Homo sapiens: one gene and its partners. The protein of the gene in region 1 purifies or fractionates together with the protein of each later gene. This does not show direct contact. Each region holds a gene or a part of one and is shown in the gene's direction. Other genes may lie near its edges.

Region 1 (4,281 bases):
TCTCCACTCCCCCACGAGACAACCAAAGGAAGCCTGTTATGAGACCTGAGTCAGGTCACATAAAAGTCAAAGTCCGAAGTCCTCCCCACAGCCCACACAATCTGGCACCCATCGCTTACCCTCCCCCTTGGCCACTCTGCTCCAGCCACACTGGCCTCCTAGCTGCTCTACCAAGTCTGGTCTGCTTCATCCATAGGAGCTTTGCACTAGCTGTTCCCTCTGCCTGAACACTCCCCTGGTGTCCCCATGGCTCACTCCCCTCCTTCATGTCTCTGCTCAAAAGTTGCCTTCTCTGTGAGATCCTCCCTGACCACTGCTGTTGCAATCCACACCCCACCTCCAACTACCCCATCCTCCCTACCTTGCTCGACTTTTTCCATGACATTTATCATCACCACCTAACATTAAAATGTACTTAATTCTTATGTTGACAGCAATCTGCCTCCCCACTAGAATGTCGCGTCCTCAGGGGCAGGGACTACTTGTTCACTGCTGTATTACACACAGCTAAAGGAAGCCAGGCATAGTGAATGTTCAATATTTATTGAAAAAACAAGTCGACTCAAAAACATAGTTTTCCTTTTCAACAGAGGTCGAAAACTCCAAGACAGATAGCTATGTTCATCTGTAAAGGAGGCATTAAAAAGACAGAGAAATACAGAGGAGGCAGAGTCATATACAGTTTGCCGAGGACCCACATCTCTACAGAAGTCAAACTGTTTGCACACAATTCCATGCCCAGAGCATCTAATAAGAGACGATACCCCCACCTGGTGGCTGGGACGGAAACGGCACCTCCCTACAATACAGAACACCCAAAGGACCGTCGCCAAAGCCCTAGGAGTCTTTTGAGCCCAATAATTCAAAAGATAGAAACGTTCATTCATCTAAGTGATGTAGATGTTTTGGTTGGTTTATTAGATGTGTAAGTTTATAAAAACTGATGGGGAAAAAAAGTGCTCCAGGTGAGGATCGAACTCACAACCTCGGCATTGCTCCGCTCGCACTGTCATATAAGTACCGCGCGCTAACCGATTGCGCCACTGGAGCTCCGGCCGCACCCCTGCGCCGGGGTCTTCTTCAGTGGTTCATAGCCACGTGACCTCACCGGAGGGCCCCGCCTTGTGTTATATATGCAAATTAAACATTTTGCATTGACCAATAGGAGACAGTGCATTGCCAGTTCCGGATTCTCACGCCTCGCGGCCCTTGCTGTAAAAGGGAAAAGTCCGCGAGGCGTTTGGAATGTAGGGGTGTCGCCTACCAGAAGGACACGCCTCCTCATGAATATTCAAAACAAGGGGTGGGGTCTTAACCCTTCGCTGGCGGGTCGGCCGGAAGGCAGCCCCTCCCCCCCCCGCAGGCGGGAACAGGATGTGAGCCCCGGCGACAGCGGGGGAGGGGAAGCCCCGGGCGACCGCCCCCCGCCTCACAGCTGGGATCGGACTCTCCCGCCCCAGATGTGGCGCCGCCGCCGTCACACGAGCCCCGTGACACCCAGCCGGGAGCCCGAGGGGTCCAGAGGCTCGGACCCGGGCGTCCGGAATTTCTGCACCGCATCCTGAGAGACCCCGAGGTCCAGACCCCGGCGCCCAGGCTGGAGGACTTGAGCCATCCAGGTGCGCAGCGCCCCCTCCTGGAGCAGCCGGGAGCCCGGACGTCACCCCGCGAGACCCTGGAGGCCGAGCGCCCCGTATCCCCGTTTCAAGAACTCAGGATCCAGGACCGCAGACTCCCTCCAGGGCTCCGATCCCAAGACCCCGCGTTGGAGGAACTTGAGATCCGGACTTCTAAGCGCCCCAACCAGTTTCGGGCTGCAGCGGCCATCGCTTCAAGGGGACCCAGGACTTTGGGACCCCCCTGTGCTCCCACCTGGAGGGAGTTTCATTCCTGCCCCTAGAATTAGGGGAACTCAGAAATCCATCCCCCACCCCACGGCCCTACCTAGAAGACTTAGGAATGTGGGTCCCCAGCGCCGCCATCTGAGACTCCAGAGTCGAGGCTCCTAGCATCCCCTACGTAGAACACTGAGAAATTCCGACTGCGGGACCCCAGTCTCCGAGAGACCCCAGATTCTATTCCTGGAGCCTGAGAGCCCGAAGTTCACGCCCCTGAGTCTGGGCTCCGCACCTCCCTGGGGACCGCGTCGGGGTCGCGCAGGAGCCGGGCTGCCTCGAGCCGGGGCTGGAGGCTCCCCGGGAGGTGAGGGGGGAGGCGAGGGGCCCAGGCGGACTGGGGGAGGGGGCGGCGCCACTGCTGAACAATGAGGGGGCGTGCCGGCGGGGGGCGAGCCGAGGCGCCGGCGGGAGTTGGGGGCTGGAGGGGTGTGGGAAGGCGCTGGGGAGGCTGTGGCTGTGGGGACGGCGATCGGGGTTCGGAGAGACCGGCCGGAGGGGGTGCGAGGGCTCGGGGCCAGCGCCCCAGCGCGCAGCCCTCGGCGGGGGAGGGAGCCGTCTGCAGGACCCTGGCATCCGGTCCCCCAGCCTCCGCCCTCCCCTGGGACCCCGCGGCCTCCCGCCCACGGCTTTTCCCAGCCCTGCCCCTCGCCCTCCGCTCCAGCTGGAGCCCAAACGTTCCCAGGATCCCTAAGCCTCCGGCCCCAGACAAACGGGACTCGCAGCTTCTGCGCCTCCTGCTCCGCTCACTCTTCTTTGTCTCAGCCTTTCCATCTTTTTCGCCAGGTTCTCTCTCCTTGTCCCCTTCTTTCTGTCACTTTGTGCCTCCCCCATTAGTTACTCCCAGGGGCCCCTCCCTGGATTTACACCACGCTCCTAATTCCCAGCCCCCATCTGTGAGTCTGGGCGGCGGAGAGGCCCATGGGGTCCTGATATCCAAGAAGGGGCTCTTTCTGCAGGACTCTGCTGGGCCGCTCAGCCATGCCTGAGGGAGCCCAAGGACTGAGCCTCTCCAAACCTAGCCCAAGCCTCGGGTGTGGCCGAAGAGGTGAAGTGTGTGACTGTGGCACCGTGTGTGAGACTCGGACAGGTGAGCCTAGAGGCAGGGGCGGCGGAGCCTGTGGGGCTTTTATTCCTTGGCAATGCTGTCAAGGCAGGGTGATGGAGACAACCCCAGGCCAACTCGCACAAAGCTCCGAGTCTGGTGGGGAAGGCGGGCCCATCCCCAGGCAATGACAGGCCAGAGGGGGCAGCGCTGGGCAGAGTGGTCAGGGCTGTGATCGTGGATCCTCTGAGCTCGGAAGGTCAGGGGAAGGTTCCTGGAGGTGGGAACATCTCAACTGGGAAGTGGAAGATTAGGGGGAAGGAGTTGCGCAAAGACAAGGAAGAGTATTCTACATGCAAGGAACAGCATGTGCAAAGGCCCAGCGGTGAGAAAAGGCTGCATGTAAGTGACTGAAAGAAGTTGAGTGTCACTGGCATCCAGAGTGTAAGAAGAGGGGTGGCTGTGGGAAGAGAACTGGCTAGAGGGATCTGTGTTGGCCACATTGCCCAGTGCCCTGTGGATCTGAGGAGTTTGGACTTTATCCCCAGGGGCATGAAGGGGTTACACTCACGGGAGTAATACAGTCAGATAGACAAATTAATAAATGTCTACCTAGCTGATTCATGGAGGTGGATTAGAGAAATGGAGGCCAGAAGTCCAGAGAGGACCCTGATGGGAGAGGATGGGACTGGACCAAGACAGGGCAGTGGGGAGAGGAGGAAGGAGCCTGTGGGAAAGCTGTTGGACAGGTGTGGGTGAGGGTGTGGGCTGAACGCATGAAAGGCTGTGGAAGTCCGTGCATGGGGAGATTTCTCTGACCTCCTGTTCCACACCCCAGCAGCTCCTGCAGCCCCCACCATGGCCTCCCCCCGAGGTTCTGGGAGCTCCACATCCCTGAGCACAGTGGGCTCTGAGGGGGATCCAGCCCCTGGGCCCACTCCAGCCTGCTCAGCCTCCAGGCCAGAGCCCCTTCCAGGGCCTCCCATCCGCCTACATCTCTCTCCGGTGGGGATCCCAGGTTCAGCCAGACCCTCAAGGCTGGAGCGTGTGGCCCGGGAGATCGTGGAGACAGAACGGGCCTATGTCAGGGACCTCCGCAGCATCGTGGAGGTAAGGCGGGCAGACACCAGAGGGCAGTGGGTACCCAGGCCAGCCCCTTGGCCCCCATAACCCCAGTCATCCCAACAGGACTACCTGGGCCCTCTGCTGGACGGCGGGGTCCTGGGGCTGAGCGTGGAGCAGGTGGGCACGCTGTTTGCCAACATTGAGGACATCTACGAGTTCAGCAGGTCAGGGGCAGGGGGGACAGGCAGGGGGCATTGATTGGTTGGAGGGTCTATT
Region 2 (3,565 bases), on another chromosome or scaffold:
TTATGATTTTAGGTCTTATGTTTAAATCTTTAATCCATCTTGAATTAATTTTTGTATAAGGTGTAAGGAAGGGGTCCAGTTTCCGTTTTCTGCATATGGCTAGCCAGTTTTCCCAGCACCATTTATTAAATAGGGAATCCTTTCCCCATTGCTTGTTTTTGTCAGGTTTGTCAAAGATCAGATGGTTGTAGACGTGTGGTATTATTTCTGAGGGCTCTGTTCTGTTCCATTGGTCTATAGCTCTGTTTTGGTACAATACCATGCCGTTTTGGTTACTGTAGCCTTGTAGTATAGTTTGAAGTCAGGTAGCATGAGGCCTCAAGCCTTGTTCTTTTTGCTTAGGATTGTCTTGGCTATACGGGCTCTTTTTTGGTTCCATATGAAATTTAAGGTAGTTTTTTCTAATTCTGTGAAGAAAGTCAATGGTAGCTTGATGGGAATAGCATTGAATCTGTAAATTACTTTGGGCAGTATGGCCATTTTCACAATATTGATTTTTCCTATCTATGAGCATGGAATGTTTTACCATTTGTTTGTGTCCTCTCTTCTTTCCTTGAGCAGTGGTTTGTAGTTCTCCTTGAAGAGGTCCTTCACATCCGTTGTAAGTTGTATTCCTAGGTATTTTATTCTCTTTGTAGCAATTGTGAATGGGAATTCACTCATGATTTGGTTCTCTGTCTGTTAGTGGTGTATAGGAATGCTTGTGATTTTTGCCCATTGATTTTGTATCCTGAGACTTTACTGAAGTTGCTTGTCACCATAAGGGATTATGGGCTGAGATGATGGGGTTTTCTAAATATACAGTCATCATCTGCAAACAGAGATAATTTGACTTCCCCTCTTCCTATCTGAATCCCCTTTATTTCTTTCTCTTGCCTGATTGCCCTGGCCAGACCTTCCAATACTATGTTGAATAGGAGAGGTGAGAGAGGGCATCCTTATCCTGTGCCGATTTTTGAAGGGAATGGTATCGGCTGTGGGTTTGTCATAAATAGCTCTTATTTTGAGATACATTTCATCAATACCTAGTTTATTGAGAGTTTTTAGCATGAAGGGATGTTGAATTTTATTGAAGGCCTTTTTTGCATCTATTGAGATAATCATGCGGTTTTTGTCATTGGTTCTGTTTATGTGATAGATTATGTTTTATTGATTTGAGTATGTTGAACCAGCCCTGCATCCCAGGGATGAAGCCGACTTGATCGTGGTAGATGAGCTTTTTAATGTGCTACTGGATTCGGTTTGCCAGTATTTTATTGAGGATTTTCGCATCGATGTTCATCAGGGATATTGGCCTGACATTTTCTTTTTTTTGTTGTGTCTCTGCCAGGTTTTTGTATTAGGGTGATGCTGGCCTCAAAAAATGAGTTAGGGAGGAGTCCCTCTTTTTCTATTGTTTGGAAGTTTCAGAAGGAATAGTACCAGTTCCTCTTTCTACCTGTGGTAGAATTCAGCTGTGAATCCATCTGGTCCTGGGCTTTTTTTTGGTTGGTAGGATATTATTGCCTCAATTTCAGAACTTTTTATTGGTCTGTTCATTAAACCAGAGTTCTTCCTGGTTTAATCTTGGGAGGGCGTATGTGTCCAGGAGTTTATCCATTTCTTCCAGATTTTCTAGTTTATTTGCGTGGAGGTGTTTATAGTGTTCTCTGATGGTAGTTTGTATTTCTGTGGGATCAGTGGTGATCCTTTATTGTGTCTATTTGATTCTTCCCGCTTTTCTTCTTTATTATTCTGGCTAGTGGTCTATCTATTTTGTTAATCTTTTCGAAGAACCAGCTTCTGGATTCATTGATTTTTTGAAGAGTTTTTCGTGTCTCTATCTCCTTCAGTTCTGCTCTGATCTTAGTTATTTCTTGTGTTCTGCTAGCTTTTGAATTTGTTTGCTCTTGCTTCTCTAGTTCTTTTAATTGTGATGTTAGGGTGTCGATTTTAGATCTTTCCTGCTTTCTCATGTGGGCACTTAGTGCTATAAATTTCCCTCTAAACACTACTTTAGCTGTGTCCCAGAGATTGTGGTACGTTATGTCTTTGTTCTCATTGGTTGCAAAGAACTTATTTATTTCTGCCCTAATTTCGTTATTTACCCGGTAGTCATTCAGGAGTTGTTCAGTTTCCATGTAGTTGTGCAGTTTTGAGTGAGTTTCTTAATCCTGAGTTCTAATTTGATTGCACTGTGGTCTGACAGACTGTTATGATTTCCATTCTTTTGCATTTGCTGAGGAATGTTTTACTTCCAATTATGTGGTCAATTTTAGAGTAAGTGCACTGTGGTACTGAGAATAATGTATATTCTGTTGATTTGGGGTGGAGAGTTCTCTAGATGTCTTTCAGGTCTGCTTGGTCCAGAGCTGAGTTCAAGTCCTGAATATCCTTGTTAATTTTCTGTCTTGTTGATCTAATATTGACAGTGGGGTGTTAAAGTCTCCCACTGTTATTATGTGGGAGTCTAGGTCTCTTTGTGGGTTTCTAAGAACTTGCATTTTGAATCTGGGTGCTCCTGTATTGGGTGCATATCTATTTAGGATAGTTAGCTCTTGTTGTTGCATTGAACCCTTTACCATTATGTAATGCCCTTTGTCTTTTTTTCATGCTTATTGATTTAAAGTCTGTTTTATCTGAGACTAGGATTGCAACCCCTGCCTTTTTTTTGCTTTCCATTTGCTTGGTAAATCTTCCTCCATCCCTTTATTTTGAGCCTTTGTGTGTCTTTGCATGTGAGATGCGACTCCTGAATACCGCACACTGATGGGTCTTAACTCTGTCTAATTTGCCACTCTGTGTCTTTCAACTGGGGCATTTAGCCCATTTACATTTAAGGTTAATATTGTTATGTGTGAATTTGATCCTGTTATTATGATGCTAGCTGGTTATTTTGCCTGTTAGTTGATGCAGTTTCTTCATAGTGTCGATGGTCTTTACATTTTGGTATGTTTTTGCAGTGGCTGGTACCGGTTTTTCCTTTCCATATTTAATGCTTCCTTCAGGAGCTCTTGTAAGGCAGGCCTTGTGGTGATAAAATCCCTCTACATTTGCCTGTCTGTAAAGGATTTTATTTCTCCTTCACTTATGAAGCTTAGTTTGACTGGTTATGAAATTCTGGGTTGAAAATTCTTTTCTTTAAGAATGTTGAATGTTAGTCCCCACTCTCTTCTGGCTTGTAGGGTTTCTGCCGAGAGATCTGCTGTTAGTCTGATGGGCTTCCCTTTGTGGGTAACCCGACCTTTCTCTCTGGCTGCGCTTAACATTTTTTCCCTCATTTTAACCTTGGTGAATCTGACGATTATGTGTCTTGGCGTTGCTCTTCTCAAGGGCATCTTTGTGATGTTTTCTGTATTTCCTGGATTTGAATGTTGGCCTGTCTTGCTAGGTTGGGGAAGTTCTCCTGGATAATAATCCTGAAATGTGTTTTCCAACTTGGTTCCATTCGTCAGTTTCAGGTATACCAGTCAAACGTAGGTTTGGTCTTTTCACATAGTCCCATATTTCTTGGGAGGCTTTGTTTGTTCCTTTTCATTCTGTTTTCTCTAATCTTATCTTCACGCTTTATTTTTATTAAGTTTTT
Region 3 (3,565 bases), on another chromosome or scaffold:
TATGACCTTGTACACTTAATTTCTCTAATCCTCATTTGTCACATTCACTAAATGGGTAAAATTATAGTACCTCATAGGATTCAGTGAGTTAATACACGTAAAACACTTAGACTAGTGAATGGCACAAAGTAAGTGCTCAATAAGTGTTTGCATGATAAATCATACACATACGTTTAATAGAAATGTAAAACATTTGTAATTTTTTTTTCACTTATTATTATTATTTATTATTAGTTTTTGAGACAGAGTCTCACTCTGTCGCCAAGGCTGGAGTGCAGTGGCACAATCTTGGCTCACTGCAGCCTCCACCTCCTGGGTTCAAGTGATTCTCCTGCCTCAGCCTCCCGAGTAGCTGGGATTACAGGCGTGTGCCACGATGCCCAGCCAATTTTTGTATTTTTAGTAGAGATGGGGTTTCACCATGTTGGGCAGGCTGGTCTCGAACTCCTGACCTCAGGTGATTCGCCCACCTCAGCCTCCCAAAGTGCTGGGATTACAGGTGTGAGCCACCATGCCCAGCCTATTTTTTTCACTCAACATTATATTGTGAATAGCTTTTCATGTTCTTGGAATTTTTTTTTTAAGAGCCAGGGTCCTGCTGTGTCTCCCAGGCTGGAGTGCAGTGGTGCTATCTCAGGTCACTGCAAGCTCCGCCTCCCAGGTTCACACCAGCCTCCTGAGTAGCTGGGACTACTGGTGCCTGCCGCCACGCCTGGCTAATTTTTTGTATTTTTAGTAGAGATGGGGTTTCACCGTGTTAGCCAGGATGGTCTCGATCCCCCGACCTCGTGATCTGCCCGCCTTGGCCTCCCAAAGTGCAGAATTGTTTTTTTTTTAAGAGCCAGGGTCCTGCTGTGTCTCCCAGGCTGAAGTGCAGTGGCTGTTCACAGGTGTGATCTTCACATACTACATCCCTGAACTCCTGGGCTCAAATGATACTCCCTGTCTCAGCCTCCTGAGTTGCTGGGACTACAGGGACACGTCACTGTGTCTTGCAAAACTTTTCTTTAAGGTCTACATAGAATTTCATTGCCAGAAAACATCATTATTTCTTTTTTCTTTTTTTAAAAAATTCTCCCAGATCCTGAGAAATACCATAATTTCATTTACCAATCCAGTCCTATTGGGCATTTAAGTTGTTTCCATTTTTAATTGGCTTTTATTTTGACTAATATTTTTTTCTTATCCAAGAATTGCAGAGAGGAGAATAGCCAATTTCAAGGTAGTTTAGCATTCTGTAGAGATATTTTTGGAGTTATAATTCGTTAGAAGACTGAATTCTAGTTCAGAGTTTGCTCCTTTTTCTGGGACTCTATAAAATGATCAGGTTGGACTAAATCTGTTGGGCTCTTTCTGTGCCTTCCTCGTCCTGTTATTGTGCAGGAGCTGAGCTCATTAAAAGTCACACACAAATCTCTAGTATTGATCCCTGTAGCCATCAGGTAGGGTCTGAGGCTGTCAGAGTACCTGGCTGGTCACCTCTAGTTGCAAGCAGCTTCATCTGACTCTAGTTTCTCCGGTTTACCCAGTATACTCTCTGGTACAAATACAATACTCTGTGGGTACCTACCTGTGAAAGGTTTGGAAGTACAGATCTATGAGAATGTATTAAGGAACACTGTTTCTCGTGGCAGATATGTGTCGTTTAGGTCCTTGTTAGATTGTTGATAATTCTTCATTCTTGGATTTTTTAGCATGGCTTCTCGCTGTTTCTGGGATGCTGACACTGACAACTATACTCATGATGTTTTCATGAATGTAAGTGTATTTGGAAACCTCTTTTCCCTTTCTAAGAACGTGGGCACCGCAAATCAAACTATTTACTGTTGATTGGGATGGAAAGACACTGCTGTCTTAGTCATTCATCTTTGACTTGTGAATGAAATGATTTTACTGTTAGTTTTTGTGTTACTAAAGCAGAAACCTAGAGTGCTGCTTATAGGCAAGGAAACTTACATGTTTACATATGACATAATTTTTCATGGGTTTGAATTTCTGAATAGCATATTATTTAGTTAGCATATTATTTAAACATTATTTTTAGCCACTTCCTCCATAAATCAGTGTTCTAAAACTCAATCCTGATAATCCTTATTAAAGTAATAATTTATAACTAAAATTTTAAAATCACTTATTTGTTCATTTGAACCAATCACACTTTGCTAAGTTGCAAACAAATGTGGATGGCAGGGATTCCATGAGCAAAGGTCATTTTTTTTTAGTAGTAAAATTTATTACTTTATCTTAAAGCCATTTATTAAAATTAAGCAAAAATAAAGAGGAATCTTTAAAAAGATGTTTCAGGCCAGGCGCGGTGGCTCATGCCTATAATCCCAGCACTTTGGGAGGCCAAGGAGGGCGGATCACCTGAGGTCAGGAGTTCAAGACCAGCCTGGCCAACATGGTGAAAGCCTGTCTCTACTAAAAATATAAAAATTAGCCGAGCATGGTGGCGGGCACCTGTAATCCCAGCTACTCAGGAGGCTGAGGCAGGAGAATCGCTTGAACCCCGGAGGCAGAGGTTGCAGTGAGCTGAGATTGTGCCACTGTATTCCAGCCTGGGTGACACACACACACACATAAAAGAGGTTTCATTGAAGTTATTATTTTATATTTACTCCAGAAAGGATTGCATCCTCTATTCGTCTACTCCCAGGTTGTGAATACATAGAGTCAGAGTTAGAGTAGAACAGAAACTAGATTGAGTAAATTAAGAGAGTGAGGCCAGGTGGGGTGGCTCACGCTTGTAATCTCAGCACTTTGGGAGGCCGAGGCATGTGGATCACTTGAGGTCAAGAGTTTGAGAGCAGCCTGGCCAACATTGTGAAACCTCTTCTCTGCTAAAAACACACACACAAAAAATTAGCCGGGTGTGGTGGTGCACGCCTGTAATCCCAGCTACTTGGGAGGCTGAGGCAGGAGAATTGCTTGAACCTGGTGGCGGAGGTTCCAGTGAGCTGAGATCGCACCACTGCATTCCAGCCTGGGCAGCAGAGCAAGACTCTGTCTCAAAAATTAAAAAAAGAAAAAAGAAAAAAGTAAAAAGAAATAAGAGGGGGATTCCATCTCCAGTTCTGTCACTTTCTAATTGAATGACTTCAGGTAAGTCATTGGATTTTTCTCACATTGTATCAGTGACATTAGGAAGCTGAAGTACATTTTCCCAAAGACTGGCTGTGACTGCCTAAGGATCATCTGGGAAGTTGTTTAAAATATAGACGCTGGGTCCCTATTCAAATAGATTCTGATCAAATAGGCCAGGGGTTAGATCAGTGAATCAGAATATTTAAAAAGTTCCCCATGATTCTGCTGACTGCCAGATATGGACACTGCTTATGTAGATGATTTTAAGGTAGCTTTTAGCTCTAAAATTCTATGGTCTCACCAAGGTTTTATTTTTATTTTTATTATTTTTTGAGACAGAATTTTGCTCTTGTTGCCCAGGATGGAGTGCAATGGCACAATCTCAGCTCACCACAACCTCCACCTCCCGGGTTGAAGTGTCCTGCCTCAGCCTTCCGAGTAGCTGGGATTACAGGCATGCACCACCACACCTGGCTAATTT
Region 4 (3,565 bases), on another chromosome or scaffold:
GTTGATGGCTTAAATCTGATAAAATTGTTCATCATGTCGTTTATGAATGTACAGTGCTTTGCACTTTATAAAACACTTTCCAATCAGATACTCCATTTGAATCTCAAAGGTCCCCTGAGAATGAGGCCTGCTGCTGCTGTCACCTTTATTTTAACCCTTGCCCAAGGTCATATAGCTAATTAGGGATGTGTTCAAAATTACAACCCAGAACTTTTGCTTCTTGGTGGTGACGTGTGACTTTACCCTGCTGTTGAGCCAGTCTGGGTTAATTGGGAATGGGGCAAGAGTTAGATCGGATTTGATTTCAGAACTATGCTGAAGATGCTGGATGATGGGGATTTTGTACACGGGTAGAGTGTAACTCATAAGAACTGTGTAGCCCCCTTAGCACAGATATTTGCTGCATTAAGCAGAAAAAAGACAGGGAGATAGAAAATGGCAGGTAGCAGGTAAAACCCGGGGTTGGAGCCTGCTTACGGTGAACCAGAAACTGGCTTGGCCCTGAGCGTACAAAGATGAGGTGTACATGGTCCCTGCCTTTGAGGAGCACACAAGTGTGTGGTGTGTGTGAGGGGGAGGGAAAAAGGTGGAGTGGGGCATGTCCGTGTATTAAGTGCTTTTACAGGGTAAGTTTTGGCTGCTCTTCACTGAGAAGGCTCACCCTCAGGGAAACCACTATAGAGAGGGGGGTGTCTGAGCTGAACCTCTAGGAATGAGTAGGAGTTGTCCAGGTGGAAGAAGGACAGGTGAGAGAAGGACCTATTAGCAAGATAGTAGCAGATGCAGAAGCAGGGAGAAGCTGCTTTATTCTCCAGGCTGTGTTTTGAAAGGCCAGCCATGAAGAGGACCATGGAAAATGGAGAAAGAAGAGGGCCTTTACTTTTTAATAAGTAAGGTTTAAATTAATCTCGATAGGGGCCGTTAAGTGGTTCTGTAGAGATTCACAGGAGAATAAGGCTGGGTAGGGTCTCTAGCGTCATCTCTGTGGGAGTAGTTATTTGGATGGTAATGCAGGAGGCATAGTACCACTTTTAGTCTGAGTGAACCTGGGACTTTGACCCTGGGCCGCGATTAGAGGATCCAAGCTGAGTATGTTCATTGGTGGGTGGGACTTTTCCTGGAATCTGGCTTTGGAGGGCTGTGCTTTGCTAGAAGAAACTTAGTAGAGTGAGGAAGGGGAAGATATAATCATGTTGATGCATGCAGGAAGCTAGTATCTGGGTGAAAATCTGTTGGCTTGAGGGAACATATGAGGCGGAGAACCTGAGGGCAAGGGGAAGGGTGGAAGGATTTCAAGTGTGTTGTGGAAGTCTGCTGTAGGCTGCCTGGAGGCTTGGAGAAAAAGGCTGGTGCATTCTAAATGTTGGTCACATCAGTGAGATTGGTAGGTGGATAGGTAGCTGTAGGTAGTGTAGGGATTAATGTTTGGAAGCAGGTAAACCACAGAGTTGAGGCTGGAAAATGTTTCCTTTCCTATCATTCTTTTTTAATAGTAATATAATTTTGAAATATTTTCAAATGCTTACCACCTGTTATGTAATTATCATATTGATTCATTAAAGTAGGTTTTTTGATTACCAGTCTCATTTTGCAGATGAGAAAATGAATTTGGTGAAATAAGGTTACACAACTACCAGGAGGCATTCAAACTTCTGCCTCATTCTTATAGCCTCTTCACCACTCTTTTCTATGCCCACATGCATGAAAAGCTCAAATCGACATTGCTTGTCTGTGTTCTTCCCTGGAATTTAATTCAGCCCACATTCGTGGGGCCCTAGTGGGGTCACAATTGAGGATTCACATGGACAAACGGGCTTCTCAGTCCCACACTGGTGCTGTTCTAGCCCCTTTTTCTCTCTTAAGATGCTACCTTGGGTGTCGTCTCTCCCCAAACCTAACTGGAAAGGACTAAGCCTCTCTAGCAAATCATCTGCCTCTTTCAACAGAGCTCGCTTCCCCAGTCCCTTGTTGTGTTAAGAATGTGATTTATTCTTGTAGAGAGGCAGTTAGGGTCATAAAGTAACAGAGTGGGGAAGTGACAGTCTTGAACTCAGTCATTACCTTTGATCTCACGGCTCCGGTAACGGTGCTATATGTTCTCTGGTGCTGAACCATATAGCTTCTGCGTCCTCTAGGAAAGCTTTCTGGCTCAGGGCTCTGAGGGAACACCTACAATCCTTCCTATCACCTACCTGAGTCAGATGGGTCATCTACATTTTGGCCACTCACAGATAAAAGCATTAATAATCTGTTTATTGTGTTGTGAGAGGAGACAGACCCCAGGATGTTCAGTAGCTGTTTGGTGAATGAACAATGTTTATGGACACAAATAAGCATGCATCACCACTTCATCTTACATATTTGTGTGTCTGCCTCCTCTCCACTTTAAAATAAGCTGCTTGAGGATTGCAGTGATGTCTGCTTGTTGATGGCTGTATTCCCAATGCCCAGAAGAATGCCTGACACATGGTAGGCACTCCAGAAATACTTGCTTGATGAAGAGAGGGAGTAAAATAGTTCACTGCAGCCACAGGATAGCAATCATGGGGGAGCGGGACTGTTTTTACTGCCCCAGAACCTTGAGCCAGTTGTTGCTGGCACAGGTGGCATTGGGCAGTCCTGCCAGCAGAGTGAAGATTGAGGGACTGGGAGTGTAGAGCTGAGGGTTGTGAGATTAACTATGCCAAGGTTAATTGCAGTTGCAACTGCTCTTTCACTTTTCCCTCACACAGACAGGTGGTCTGGAACAGTCCTCTGTTTTCTTCTCTTTTGAGACAGAGTATTTTTTTGTTTGTTTGTTTGGTTTGTTTGTTTTGAGACACAGTCACACTTTGTCACACAAGCTGGAGTGCAGTGGCGCAATCTTGGCTCACTGCAACCTCCACCCCCTGGGTTCAAGTGATTCTCCTGCCTCAGCCTCCCAAGTAGCTGGGATTACAGGTGCCCGCCACCACTCCCGGCTAATTTTTGTATTTTTAATAGAGACGGAGTTTCACCATGTTGGCCAGGCGGTCTTGAACTCCTGACCTCGTGATCCACCTGCCTTGGTCTCCCAAAGTGCTGGGATTACAGGCGTGAGCCACCACGCTCAGCCTTGAGATGGAGTTTTACTCTTGTTGCCCAGGCTGTAGTGCAATGGCCCGATCTCGGCTCACTGCAACCTCCGCCTCCCAGGTTCCAGCGATTCTCCTACCTCAGCCTCCCAAGTAGCTGGGATTACAGGTGCCTGCTGGCACGCCTGGCTAATTTTTGTATTTTTGTGGAGATGGGGTTTCACCATGTTGGCCAGGCTGGTCTTGAACTCCTGACCTCAGGTGATCCGCTGGCCTTGGCCTCCCAAAGTGCTGGGATTACAGGAGTGAACCACTGTGCCCAGCCCTCTGTTTTCTTAATCCATGCCTTTTCTTATGCTGTTTTCTCTACCTGGAGTTTCCAGCCTTTCTGTCTCTGCCTGTTGTAAACCTGTGATTCTAGGATCAATATCAAAATCTACCTTGTGCCATGAAGCAATTTCCAGACTCCTTAACCCTTCCAACCCACACGTATCTGTGATCAGATACAACTC

Evidence for each region.
Region 2: the proteins of PLEKHG2 (region 1) and DCK purify together in Homo sapiens (affinity purification with mass spectrometry; one large-scale study listed by BioGRID and IntAct). This does not show direct contact.
Region 3: the proteins of PLEKHG2 (region 1) and DYNLT2B purify together in Homo sapiens (affinity purification with mass spectrometry; one large-scale study listed by BioGRID and IntAct). This does not show direct contact.
Region 4: the proteins of PLEKHG2 (region 1) and LPP purify together in Homo sapiens (affinity purification with mass spectrometry; one large-scale study listed by BioGRID and IntAct). This does not show direct contact.

The regions. Positions count from the first base shown.
Region 1 is NC_000019.10:39,411,211-39,415,491, forward strand, and holds the start of PLEKHG2 (pleckstrin homology domain-containing family G member 2), read left to right. Parts: upstream 1-1,458; 5' UTR 1,459-2,202; intron 2,203-2,568; exon of another isoform or gene 2,569-2,681; intron 2,682-2,854; 5' UTR 2,855-2,876; coding exon 2,877-2,985; intron 2,986-3,781; coding exon 3,782-4,050; intron 4,051-4,128; coding exon 4,129-4,229; intron 4,230-4,281. UniProt on the Homo sapiens protein: May be a transforming oncogene with exchange activity for CDC42. May be a guanine-nucleotide exchange factor (GEF) for RAC1 and CDC42. Activated by the binding to subunits beta and gamma of the heterotrimeric guanine nucleotide-binding protein (G protein).
Region 2 is NC_000004.12:71,000,143-71,003,707, forward strand, and holds part of DCK (deoxycytidine kinase), read left to right. Parts: intron 1-3,565. UniProt on the Homo sapiens protein: Phosphorylates the deoxyribonucleosides deoxycytidine, deoxyguanosine and deoxyadenosine. Has broad substrate specificity, and does not display selectivity based on the chirality of the substrate.
Region 3 is NC_000003.12:196,294,199-196,297,763, reverse strand, and holds part of DYNLT2B (dynein light chain Tctex-type protein 2B), read left to right. Parts: intron 1-1,694; coding exon 1,695-1,758; intron 1,759-3,565. UniProt on the Homo sapiens protein: Acts as one of several non-catalytic accessory components of the cytoplasmic dynein 2 complex (dynein-2 complex), a motor protein complex that drives the movement of cargos along microtubules within cilia and flagella in concert with the intraflagellar transport (IFT) system.
Region 4 is NC_000003.12:188,157,116-188,160,680, forward strand, and holds part of LPP (lipoma-preferred partner), read left to right. Parts: intron 1-3,565. UniProt on the Homo sapiens protein: May play a structural role at sites of cell adhesion in maintaining cell shape and motility. In addition to these structural functions, it may also be implicated in signaling events and activation of gene transcription.